Regions from separate parts of the Homo sapiens genome. Here region 1 is linked to region 2. The links come from fine-mapping of genetic effects on gene expression. Tissue or cell type: monocytes after Pam3CSK4. Region 2 holds a variant in brackets; the other region holds the start of a gene. All regions are shown on one strand. Distances are between the middles of the regions.

Region 1 (5,106 bases), 39 kb before region 2:
GTGGAGCCCTCAGGACCTGCCCGGGGTAGAGAGGGCATCTCTCTGTTGCCTGCATCTCGGGCTGGAGAATAGGCAACGGCAAATCTGTGGAAAGGATGGATGAAGGTCAGGTAAGAGCTGGGAGGCTGGGTGCTCTGGTTCCTGAAAACACTGGAGATGGGGCTCGGAGGAAAAGAAGAGGCCTGGAGGTGGCCAGGCGTGGTGGCTCACGCCTGGAATCCCAGCACTTGGGGAGGCCGCAGCAGGTGGATCACTTGAGCTCAGGAATTTAAGACCAGCCTGGGCAACACAGCAGCACCCCATCTCTACAAAATATACAAAAATTAGTTGGGTGTGGTGGCTGTGGTCCTAGCTACTCTGGAGGCTGAGACGGGAGGACTGCTTGAGCCCAGGAGGTTGCCATGAGCCAAGATCATACCACTGCACTCTAGCCTGGGTGACAGAGGGAGACCTTGTACAAAACAAAAACAAAAAACAAACAAAAGGCCTAGAGGCTGGCAAAACGGAGGCCCCCTACCCTGGGAATGGAGACTAGAAAAGGGTGAGGCTGCCAAGAGCATTTTGGGCATCCCGCCCAGCTGAGATGCTGGCACAGAACCATGGACAGGGAAAGCTGAGCAGGGAAAGTTTCCTGGTAACTGGGGTCAGGGGAGGCAGCACAGTGGCCAGAGTTGCAGGGAGGAAAGGTTGTGGCCCCGGGGTGAGACAGACAGAAAGGAGGGTGGGGAGCACCTGCCCTCTACAGGAAGCAGTCCGGTCGCCCTCACCGAGCCAGAGGGAGCAGACTCATCAAGACTTTGTGTCTCAGGAGGTCCCGATGCAGCTCCTGAAAATGACGGTATTTCTTCTTGGTTGTCCAGGAAAAGTCGCCGTGAGTCAAGCGGACAGAATACAGAGTGCAGGTTCCCACCTAGGGGTATGAGGAACTGAATGGATGTCCCCTGCGTGGGTCCCCGCCTCCCCACTCTGGCCAGCCCTCCTTTTGCCCCTTCCCTGGGGCCAGCCCAGCCACCTTGGATCCATTCCGGGCCGCCCTCCCTTTCCCCCTCCCTGGGGCCAGTCTGGCCACCTTGGATCCGCTGGTATATCTTTCGGTGCCCACCACCTGGGCTGTGACAGGGACCCCAGGTGCGAACACCAAGGGGTGCACTTTCAGAGACTGAAGCTCATAGATGGCCAGAAACGGGTGCATCCGGTCGGCTGGGAGGAAAGAAAGTCGAGGAGTGTAGACCACAACAGGCCCCAGCCCCCTGGCTCCCGAACGCCTCTCCTCCCTGAGGGCCATCCATCTTCCCTGTGTACCTGGGTCCTCTCCCTCCTTCAGGGTGTCCACCTCATCGGACTCCATCTGGAGCTGGCTGGAGTCCAGTTCGTCCCCAGTGGGGAAGAGGCTCTCAGGGGTCGCCGTCATCCTAGGAACATTGGGAAGCCTCAGGGAGGCGAGCTGTCCTGCAGAACCCGCCCCCCATCCTAACTCCCGCAGGTCCTCCATCTCTTCCAGATCCTCCTCTTCCCCCACGGCCTCCTGACCGCCCGCGGATGACGCCTGACCAGTTTGCAACGCCCCACCGACCCCTTCGAGCCCCCATCCCCTACCTTAGTCCTTCATCCACAATCCCAGTCCCGCCCCCCGCCCCCCGCCCCGTCCCGTAACCAGAGCCCCGGGGAACACCCAGCCAGGCCCGGAAGGCTCCGACCTGGGGCGGCGCAGCAGCTGCGCGGGGAAGCGGCCCTGGGTGGTCCGGAGAGCGCGCGGCTACGGGGCTCACGCCAGGCCAGGCGGGCCGGGGGCAGGGGTCCAGGCGGGAATGAGGAAGTTACGCGATCCCAGCCGGGGGTAGAAATCCCGAAATCTGAGCGTGCGACTGAGTCTGGAGGCCCCGCAGCCCGAGCCCGTTCCGTCCCCGCCCGATTTCCGAGACCCGGGACCCCCGCGCGCCCCTTCCCGGCCCCCTCACCCTGGCAGACGGAGCCAGCGCCCGCGGGGGTTCCGGAGCCAAGAGAGCAGACCGGAGCTGCAGCCGGAGCCCACGCCCCGGCCGAGGCGGGGCCGGCCGAGGCGGGGCCGGGGCTCAGGGCCTGCCCTCGGGGGCGGGGCGGCCCCCGGCCTCACCTCCGCGGGATTCTCGTCTGTCCTGTCCCGCCCCCGCTGCCCTCGGCCCGCCCCGCCGCCCAGTGCGCCACCGAGAGCCCCGGGCAGGGGGCCGCCCTGTGCCCTGCAGGGCCGCGGGGCCGCGTAGCTCTCTCGGTGCGGCGGGTAAGTGCTGCCCGGCGTCGGGGCGTCCCGCGCCGTCGGTCCCAGCGTGCCCGGCCGCTGCCTCCCGGGGCACCCCGCGCTGCGCGCATCCCTCGGGCTCGGCGCCCGCCCCGGGCCCCTCCAGCCGCGGGCGCTGCCTCGGCGCCCGGGGGACGCGCCTCCGCTGCGGGAGCTGCCGGTAGGTGCCCCGCTCCCGGACCCGCTGCGAGCCACATTTGGCCTAGCCCAGATAGCGTTTGTACCTGGAAGGAATGAGGGCGTAAAAGGCCTGAGGGGTGGTGGCTACAAACCCATTAGTGTATGAAAGCGGGCATTCTTTCATTCATTCACCAAACATTTATTGCGCGCTTACTCCGTGCCAGAAATTGAGAGTATGGTAGTAAATAAGATGGTTAGAGAGCCTGCTCAGCTGGAATTGGCAGTCTAGGGGGAAATAAAATTTTTTCGGGTATTAAAATACAAGATATTTCAATCTTTTTTAAAAAGCAGATTTATTTTTCTCTTTTGATATACATGTGGGTTTCTAGTTTTGCCCATTGTTTTAGCTCCTGTAAACATTCCTGTAAGTTTGCGTGGATAGTTTTCCTTTATCTTGGGTAACTAGGGAGTGGAGTTGTTCGATCATATCAGTGTGTGTTTAACTTATAAGAAACTGCCAAACGATTTTTTTCTAAATGGTTTTTCCATTCTAGATTTCCAAAATCAGTGTATGGTGGTTCCAGTTATTCCATGGCATGGCCAACGTTGGATATTGTCAGTCTTTAGCGTTGGCCATTTAATGGGTGTTGTGGGCACATCATTGCAATTTGATTTGCATTTGTCTGGAGATCAATGATATTGACCATGTTTCATGTGCTGATTGGCCATTTGTATGTCTTCTTTTATAAAGTGCCTATTCAGTCTTTTGCTATTTTTTATTTATTTTTATTTTTATTTTTATGAGACGGAGTCTCGCTCTTTTTTTTTCTTTTTTTGAGATGGAGTCTTGCTGTGTTGCCCAGGCTGGAGTGCAGTGGCGCGATCTCGGCTCACTGCAAGCTCCGCCTCCCAGGTTCACGCCATTCTCCTGCCTCAGCCTCCTGAGTAGCTGGGACTACAGGCGTCCGCCACCACGCCCAGCTAATTTTTTTTGTATTTTTAGTAGAAACGGGGTCTCACCGTGTTATCCAGGATGGTCTCGATCTCTTGACCTTGTGATCCGCCCTCCTCGGCCTTCCAAAGTACTGGGATTACAGGCGTGAGCCACCGCGCCCGGCCAGAGTCTCGCTCTTGTTGCCCATGCTGGACTGCAGTGGCGTGATCTCGGCTCACTGCAACCTCCCCCTTCCAGGTTCAAGGGATTTCCGGCTAATTTTTGTATTTTTAGTAGAGACGGGGTTTCACCATGTTGGCCGGGCTGGTCTCAAACTCCAGACCTCAAGTGATCCGCCCTCCTCAGCCTCCCAAAGTGCTGGGATTACAGGCGTGAGCCACCGTTCCCGGCCTTTTGCTAATTTTTTTTTTTGAGACAGAGTTTCGCTGTTATTGCCCAGGCTGGAGTGCAATGGCGCGATCTCGGCTCACTGCAACCTCCGCCTCCCGGGTTCTCTCCTGCCTCAGCCTCCTGAGTAGCTGGGATTACAGGCACCTGCCACCACGCCTAGCTAATTTTTTGTATTTTTAGTAGAGACGGGGTTCCTCCATGTTGGTCAGGCTGGCGTCGAACTCCTGACCTCAAATGATCCGCCCTCCTTGGCCTAAAGTGCTGGGATTACAGGCGTGAGCCACCGCACCCGGTCTTAAACTTATAAAACAGGCAAAAACAACCTATAGTGATGGAAATCAGATCAGTAGTTGCTTGTGGCAGGGTGTAGGGAAAAGATTGCCTGTAAAGGGACACGTGAGGGAACATTCCAGGATGATAAGAATGCCCTGTATTTTGATAGGAGTGGTGATTGCATAGGAGCATACACTTGGTAATACTCATGGAACTGTACGTTAAGATGTGTGCATTACATTGTATGTGCATTTTTGCTTCAATAAAGTTCATTGAAAGAAAAAGAAGGCGGGGCGCGGTGGCTCACACCTGTAATCCCAGCACTTTGGGAGGCCGAGGCGGGCAGATCACGAGGTCAGGAGATCGAGACCATCTTGGCTAACATGGTGAACCCCGTCTCTACTAAAAATACAAAAAATTAGCTGAGTGTGGTGATGCGTACTACTCGGGAGGCTGAGGCAGGAGAATCATTTGAACCAGGGAGTCAGAAATTGCAGTGAGCCGGGACAGTGCCACTACACTCCGGCCTGGTGACAGAGTGAGACTGTCTCAAAAAAAAAAAAAAAAGAAAGAAACATTTCTGTGTAACTCAGGCAGTACCCTGTAATCAGCAACCTAACACTCCCCACGTTGTGGCACCCTCAGGGAATGATGAAACAGCACTTGTGGCTGGGCGCAGTGGCTCACGCTTGGAATCCCAGCACTTTGCGAGGCTGAGGAGGGCAGATCACGAGGTCACGATATCGAGACCATCCTGGCTAACACAGGGAAACCCTGTCTCTATTAAAAATACAAAAAATTAGCCAGGCGTGGTGGCGGGCACCTGTAGTCCCAGCTACTTGGGAGGCTGAGGCAGGAGAATGGCGTGAACCCGGGAGGCGGAGGTTGCAGTGAGCTGAGATCGTGCCACTGCACTCCAGCCTGGGCAACAGAGCGAGACTCCATCTCAAAAAAAAAAAAAAGAAAAAAGAAAAAAAACACAGCACTTCCACAGCTTTACTTAAGAGCACTTAGAGTCCTTGGCTAGGATGCTCTTGACTAGATGCTCCCAGCCTTGGCTCTGGCCACCCCAAACTGTCTGAGGGCATCGATG
Region 2 (8,052 bases):
CTGAGGTGAAGGGAGGATGTGGTGCTGGACAAGGTGGGGGCTATGGACACATTACCCTGGGTTAGTGCCTTCCTGTTTTTTCTGCACAGCTCCACAGCCCCTCTGTTGGTTCCATACCTGCTTTGCAACTTAGCCAAGCCCCTTCATGTCTCTTAAGTCTCAGTTGCCACTTGTGTCTGGGCACGGTGGCTCACACCTGTAATCCCAGCACTTTGGGAGGCCGAGGAGGGTGGATCACCTGAGGTCAGGAGTTTGAGACCAGCCTGGCCAACGTGGTGAAACCCCGTCACTACTAAAAATGCAAAAGTTATCTGTGCATGGTGGCGGGCACCTGTAATCCCAGCTATTCGAGAGGCTGAAGCAGGAGGATCACTTGAACCTGGAAGGTGGAGGTTGCAGTGAGCTGAGATTGTGCCATTGCACTCCAGCCTGGGTGACAAGAGTGAAACTCTGTCTCGAAAAATAAATAAATAAGTAAATAAAGTGACAAGAATGAAACTCTGTCTCAAAAAGTAAATAAATAAATAAATAAATAAATAGATAAATAAATAAGTGATGCCACTTGCCTTGTGGGCTACTTGTGAGGATTAAATGGGACAACCTGAGAAGTATTTTGTAAACTAGGAAGCACAGAGCAGATGTGTGGTGGCCTCTTCGTTTCTGCCAGCCTCTCAGGCAGCATTCTTCCCAGGGAGAAATTAAAGAGGTGATTGTGGGCTCTTATTGTCCTTGCATTTCGTCTTCCTGGTATTTGATTATTGATGTCTCCTCCTCTTGAGGCCACTGCCTGTCTCTCAGGGTGGGCTCGGGACCTAGGCCTCATTGATGAGAGCGTTCTATCCTGCTAGCCTCGGTGTTTGATTTAGCAACAGCCATGCGATCTGAGCCAACTCTGTGAGAATCAGCTTCTGCCATTTTTCCATTCTGAGGTCAAAGAAGTTCTGTTTTTGTTGGGGTGCTGCAGTTTCCTTGATAACTTCTTTTTTTTTTGAGACGGAGTCTCACTCTGCCGCCCAGGCTGGAGAGCAGTGGCGTGATCTTGGCTCACTGCAACCTCCGCCTCCTGGGTTCAAGCGATTCTCCTGCCTCAGCCTCCCAAGTAGCTGGGATTACAGGCGCCCACCACCACACCCAGCTAATTTTTGTATTTTTAGTAGAGACGGGGTTTCACCATGTTGGCCAGGCTGGTCTCAAACTCCTCACCTCAAATGATCCACCTGCCTCAGCCTCCCAAAGTGCTGGGATTACAAGCATGAGCCAAGCCACCCAGTCGACTTCTTTTTTTTTTAATTAAAAAAATGTTTTTGAGACCAGGGTCTCCCTTTGTTGCCCAGGCTGGTGTGGAGTGGATCATGGCTCCCTGCAGCCCTGACCACCTGGGCTCAAGTGATCCTCCCACCTCAGCCTCCCGAGTAGCTAGGACTATAGGTGTGTGCCACCACACCTGGCTAATGGTTTTTTGTTGTTTTTTTTTTGAGATGGAGTCTTGCTCTGTCACCCAGGCTGGAGTTTAGTGGTGTGATCTCGGCTCACTGCAACCTCTGCCTCCTGGGTCTCAGAAGCAAACAGGAGAGTGAAGGCCCCCACAGAATGAGCCCTAGCTCAAGTAGGATGTGGGAGTGCCATGAAGAGATGAGGGTAGCAGGAAGGGCTGCAGGGCTTCAGAGGGTATGCAATGAGGCTGTCACCTGGAAAGTGTCACCAGCCAGTGGCCCCTGATGCAGCCCCTCCTTGCGGCCCACTCAGACCACTACAGAAATGTGGAAAATGGAGAAAAGCCAGAATCTCTGCTATTTATAAGACAGAGGAACTGGATTGAGAAAAATACATGGAGAATTTACCTCTTGAATCAGAGGATGCCTGAAAAAGAAAATACTTTGAACCTCCCCAACTATTTGTCTCTGACTCATAGGTAATTATGATGACTGATACATTTGGTTTTGCTTCTGTTGGCATGTTTAATGCTTTAAACAACATTTCCATATTGCTTCTGATGTTTTCTGTTCCTCTTCTTTTTTGTTTTTTGAGACAGAGTTTTGCTCTTGTTGCCCAGGCTGGAGTGCAGTGGTGCGATCATGGCTCACTGCAACCTCCACCTCCCAAGTTCAAGCAATTCTCCTGCCTCAGCCTCCCGAGTAGCTGGGATTATAGGCATGCGACACCACGCCCAGCTAATTTTGTATTTTTAGTAGAGACGGGGTTTCTCCATGTTGGCCAGGCTAGTCTCGAACTCCCGACCTCAGATGATCCCCGCCTCGGCCTCCGAAAACGCTGGGATTACAGGCATGAACCACTGCGCCCAGCCTCTGTCCCTTTTCTTTAAAGATTTTACATTATCCTTTTTTTTTTTTTTTTGAGACAGGGTCTCTGTCACTCAGACTAGAGTGCCATGGTAAGATAATCATGGCTCGCTGCAGCTATGACCTCCTAGCTCAAGCTGTCTTCCCACTTCAGCTTCCTTAGTAGCCAGGATTACAGGCCCACACCACCACACTCAACTAATTTAAAAAATTTCTTTTGGCCGGGCGCAGTAGCTCACGCCTGTAATCCCAGCACTTTGGGAGGACAAGGTGGGCAGATCATGAGGTCAGGAGATCGAGACCATCCTGGCTACCGTGGTGAAACCCTGTCTCTACTAAAAATACAAAAAAAATTAGCTGGGTGTGGTGGCAGGCACCTGTAATCCCAGCTAGTCGGGAGGCTGAGGCAGGAGAATTGCTTGAACCCGGGAGATGGAGGTTGCAGTGAGCCGAGATTGCACCACTGGACTCCAGCCTGGGTGACAGAGGAAGACTCCATCTAGAAAAAAAAAAAAAAGATACAAGGAAAAGGGTCACATTGGATCCCACCCTAGATCACCTGACCCCCAGCCAACTCCTATGTGTGTATCAGTGAAATAAATGCTTATATTTATTTGACACTAAGACTTCGTCGAGGGGGATGGTTTGTTGCCCAGTAACAAGTTCCTAACACAGACCCCCTTATC[T/C]AGGCCAGGGCTGGTTGATTGAGGAACAAGTAGCTGACCCAAAGGCAGACATGTAGCCAGCGACCTGTGAGGTCTCTCGAGGTGAGAACTCCATCCAACAGAGGTACACTGACTGGATAATGACCAATCCACCGACTGGATCTTCATGATTGGGAAATGTGTCTGTGAGACAAGCTGAGACAGTCATCAGAGAGTGGGGTGGCTTCAAACTGAGAGTTGTATGCAAGAAAGAAGCAATCAAAAGCCAGAGGCAACTGACACCAGAAATAAGCAGAAGTCACAGCAAGAGAAGTGTATGGAGAATAGTTACTCTGAAACAGCGCCAGAGGGAGAAGCACAGGCACTGGAAAACTCTGGTTCCTCAGGAGGTGGCCGATGAGAGGTTGTCACCAGCACTAATGTTGAACTACCAGAGCAACTGTCATATCCCGAATAGTGGCCCTTCCAACCGTGGACCTGAAGAGGGGATTCAGCCATTGATCTGATGGACAGAGAGCAGGGCCAAGAGCTGGCCACCTATTTGTCTACAAGTTGCTCAAGCTGATTCTGAGAGATGGTGCCTCTTTTTTATTTTTTTTTAAACAGAGTTTCACTCTTATTGCCCAGGCTGCAGTGCAGTGGCGTGATCTCGGCTCACCGCCACCTCCGCCTCCCGGGTTCAGGAGACTCAAGTAGTTGGGATTACAGGTGCCCGCCACCACGCTTGGCTCATTTTTGTATTTTTTGTGGAGATGAAGACAGGGTTTCTCCATGTTGGCCAGGCTGCTCTCGAACTCCTGATCTCAGGTGATCCACCCACCTCGGTCTCCCAAAATGCTGGGATTACAGGTGTGAGCCACTGCGGCCAGCCAAATGGTGTCTGTTTTGAGGATGAATAAAGAGAAAAAAAATAGTTGTGTGGGTGGGGTGGTCCACAGGCATTCATTACATTATTTTTATACAATTCTGGATGAATGAAATAATGTTAATAATGTTAACAAAACATTATAGGGATTCTGAAAAATTTTCTCAAAACCAGGGAAGGGCAAATCAACCTGAAGACTGAAAGAAACAGAATCCTCTGGAGGAACATTTACTATAGGATTTGGAAGAGATTTCCAGGAAGATTTTTGATGACATCACTAGAATTCTCCTGGAACTAGGAACAGAATAACTTAAGAAAGAAAAGGCTGGCCGGGCGCGGTGGCTCACGCCTGTAATCCCAGCACTTTGGGAGGCCAAGCTCGGTGAATCACCTGAGGTCAGGAGTTTGAGACCAGCCTGGCCAACATGGCGAAACCCCATCTTCACAAAAAATACAAAAATTAGACAAGTGTGATGGCAGGCACCTGTAATCCCAGCTACTCAGGAGGCTGAGGCAGGAGAATCGCTTGAACCCGGGAGGTGGGGGTTGCAGTGAGCCGAGATCGCACCATTGCACCCCAGTATGGGCAACAGAGCAAGACTCCATCTCAAAAAAAAAAAAAAAAAAAAGGTCCAGGCTCAGTGGGTCACGCTTGTAATCCCAGCACTTTGGGAGGCCGAGGCGGGCAGATCACCTGAGGTCAGGAATTCGAGACCAGCCTGACCAACATGGGGAAACCCCGTCTCTACTAAAAATACAAAAATTAGCTGGGCATGGTGGCGGGTGCCTGTAATCCCCGCTACTCAGGAGGTTTAGGCAGGAGAATCGCTTGAACCCGGGAGGTGGAGATTGCAGTGAGCCAAGATCACGCCATTGCGCTTCAGCCTGGGTGACAGAGTGAGACTCTGGCTCAAAAAAAAAAAAAAAAAAATTCAGGAAACTGGCTTCTCCTAAGAACAAGAATAGAACTGGTGGAAGTGACACCACAGTTAAAACATCTGCACTAGGAGAAGACGTCACTGAGCGCAGATAGATCCACTCAGGTCAGTGGGTTGAAAGTTATACTGCACGGCAGGTAAAATATTAAAAGTCAGCTGACCATAGATTCATCCTGACAAAATATCTGAATTAAAGGATACATCTAGGCAGAATTTAAAAAGGCTACTTAGAAAGAAACAATAGTTGGTGTGGCCAGAGTCTTCTCTGAAATACTGAATGTCAGAGGACAAAGGAGTAAGGCAGCTGTGTCCACCAAAAAAGGTAGAACTATCATATACATGTCTAAGTTGCATTTTGTATGTTAAGGGCAACACAATTGCATTTCTGAGAATGTTTGGATTTCAAAATAACACTTTGGCTCCTTTTTTTTAGAGAAATTGTGTTGACTCACCAAGAGATGAAGTAAAATAAAAACCCCAAAATGGGGAAGTCTTGACGTAAGTCTAAATAAATTTCATATATCTGGTTACAAAACTGGATGCACATTTTGGAAAAAAATATTTTTCTTCTCTTTTGTTTTGAGTCAGAGTCTTGCTCTGTCATGCAGGCTGGAGTGCAGTGGCGTCATCTTGACTCTGCAACCTCAGCCTTCTGAGTTCAAGCGATTCTCCTGCCTTAGCCCCCCAAGTAGCTGGGATTACAAGCATGGGCCACCAGGCCTGGCTAATTTTTATATTTTTAGTAGAGACTAAGTTTCACCATGTTGGAGGGTGGTCTTGAACTCCTGACCTCAAGTGATCCACCTGTCTTGGCCTCCCAAAGTGCTGGGATTACAGGTATGAGCCACCACAACCCGGCCAGAGCCATTGTGCCCAGTCTCATTTTTTTTTAAAGACAGTGTCTCACTCTGTTGTCCAGACTGGTGTGCAGTGGCATGATCTTGGCTCACTGCAAACTCTATCTCCTGGGCTCAAGTGATCGTCCTGCCTCAGCCTGCCAAGTAACTGGGACTACAGATGTTCACCACCCACCATGCTTGTCTAATCTTTTTGTGTGTATATATGTAAATATATATATATATATTTTTTTTGAGACAGAGTTTCACTCTTGTTGCCCAGGCTGGAGTGCAATGGCGCAATCTCAGCTTACTGCAACTTCTGCCTCCCAGGTTCAAGCGATTCTCCTGCCTCAGCCTCCCTAGTAGCTAGGATTACAGGCATGTGCCACCACGCCCGGCTAATTTTGTATTTTTAGTAGAGACAGGGTTTCTCCATGTTGGTCAGGCTGGTCTCAAACTCCCGACCTCAGGTGATCCGCCCACTTCGGCCTCCGAAAGTGCTGGGATTACAAGTGTGAGCCACCGAGCCCAGCCATCATTTTGTATTTTTTGTAGAAATGGGGTTTCATTTTGTTGCCCAAGTGGTCTTGAACTCCTGGGCTCAAGAAATCTGCACACATAGGCTTCCCAAAGTGTTGGGATTACAGGCGTGAGCCACTGCACCTAGCCCCGTAAAAATTTCTTTTGAAGTGGCCGGGCGTGGTGGCTCACGCCTGTAATCCCAGCACTTTGGGAGGCCGAGGTAGGCGGCTCACCTGAGGTCGGGAGTTTGAGACCAGCCGGACCCACATGGAGAAACCCCATCTCTACTAAAAATACAAAATTAGCTGGACTTGGTAGCGCATGCCTGTAATCCCAGCTACTTGGGAAGGCTGAGGCAGGAGAATCGCTTGAACCTGGGAGGTGGAGATTGCAGTGAGCCAAGATCGCGCCATTGCACTCCAGCCTGGGCAAGAGCAAAACTCTGTCTCAAAAAAAAAAAAAAAAAAAAAAATTCTTTTAAAGGGCAGCTGTATAATGTAAATTCTAAAAATGATATTAATACTATTAAATATGTCATTATTGCTTGCCATACTCTGGGTCCATTGTAAGGAACTATACCAGGTAACAGAAAACCCAACTCTATTGCAACAAAAAGGGAATTTATTGGTTCAAGCAATCAAAACATCCAGTAGGACTGAAGTAGGACTAACTGCAGGTGCAGTTTGGTCCAGAAGTTCAGGATGTCATCAGTGTTCTTGTTTCTCTGCCATTCTCTCTGCTGTTCCTTTTTTTGGCTTTGACTTCCTCCTTAAGTGGGATCTTCCTCCTGACAGTAGTATTAGCTGCAGCAGTTCAGACCTTATGTCTTTACACCCTACCACCAGGAGGAAGAGAATCTCCTCGCATAGCTTTCCCTGAGTAGAGAGGAAGTTTCTTTCCCATTTACCCCAGAAAATTTCTCCTTGGTGCAGACTGGGTTCTATGTCTGTCCCTTACACGGATCACTGTGGCCAGAGGGTAGAACATGCTGTATGAGTCTGTTCTCACGCTGCTAATAAAGACATACCCGAGACTGGTACTTTATAGAGGAAAGAGGTTTAATTGACTCACAGTTTAGCATGGCTGGGGAGGCCTTAGGAAACTTACAATCATGGCGGAAGGGGAAGCAAACATGTCCTTCTTCACATGGAGGCATTCCAGCACAGGGGGTGTTGTCAATTCTGTCTAAGCCACCAGGCTGGGAAATTAAGGGCAGTATTAGGAAGGAGGAAAGACAGAATGAATGATGGGGAGGCATCCAGCGAATATCCTCTCCAGGGAATCTGTCTAAACTCTGTGGCTCCGTACTCACTGCCCATAGCTGAGTAGCACATGCTTGACCTAGTATGTGACAGAGATAGTGAGTTAGTCCCAGTCTTCTGCTTTTATTATAGTAGCAGACTTTGTAGTCTGCTGCTAAAGGCACATGGCTGCTAAGCTAGAGACTATATTTTCGGCCAAGCCCGGTGGCTCACGCCTGTAATCCCAGCACTTCGGGAGGCTGAGGCGGGTGGATCACCTGAGGTCAGGAGTTTGAGACCAGCCTGGCCAACATGGTGAAACCTCATCTCTACTAAAAATACAAAAATTAGCCAGGCGTGGTGTCTCACGTCTGTAATCCCAGCACTTTGGGAGGCCAAGGCAGGTGGATCACCTGAGGTTGGGAGTTTGAGGCCAGCCTGACCAATATGGAGAAACCCCATCTCTATAAAAATACAAAATTAGCCGGGCGTAGTGGCACATGCCTGTAATCCCAGCTACTCCGGAGGCTGAGGCAGGAGAATCGCTTGAACCTGGGAGGCGGAGGTTGCAATGAGCTGAGATCATGCCACTGCATGCACTCTAGCCTGGGCGACAGAGCGAGACCCCGTGTCAAAACAACAACAACAACAAAAAAACCCTATTTTTTCTAACTTCTTTTGT

Which allele goes with the higher level. Alleles are on the strand shown, and positions count from the first base shown. SD is a standard deviation of normalised expression in the study named.
For the expression in monocytes after Pam3CSK4 of the gene that starts at base 2,032 in region 1, T is the low allele of the variant in region 2 and C is the other (large effect, 0.81 SD a copy in Quach 2016).

The links. PIP is the estimated chance that this variant, and not a neighbour inherited with it, causes the effect.
Region 1: it holds the start of PLD2, and the variant in region 2 is fine-mapped to the expression of PLD2 in monocytes after Pam3CSK4 (Quach 2016, PIP 0.95).

What each region holds. Positions count from the first base shown.
Region 1 is chr17:4,804,078-4,809,183 of GRCh38, reverse strand. PLD2 (phospholipase D2) reads right to left here and starts at 2,032. Exons shown (of 25, transcript NM_002663.5): 1 at 1,959-2,032; 2 at 1,303-1,412; 3 at 1,070-1,200; 4 at 768-910; 5 at 1-84. The coding sequence starts at 1,411. It also overlaps a transcript of C17orf114 not described here. RefSeq lists an enhancer at 97-1,296 and a silencer at 1,692-2,481.
Region 2 is chr17:4,763,681-4,771,732 of GRCh38, reverse strand. No RefSeq gene overlaps it. Among named protein-coding and RNA genes, the nearest start is that of TM4SF5, 4.2 kb to the left of the region's middle. RefSeq lists a silencer at 7,507-7,669. The variant T/C (reference allele first, on the strand shown) is at 2,987.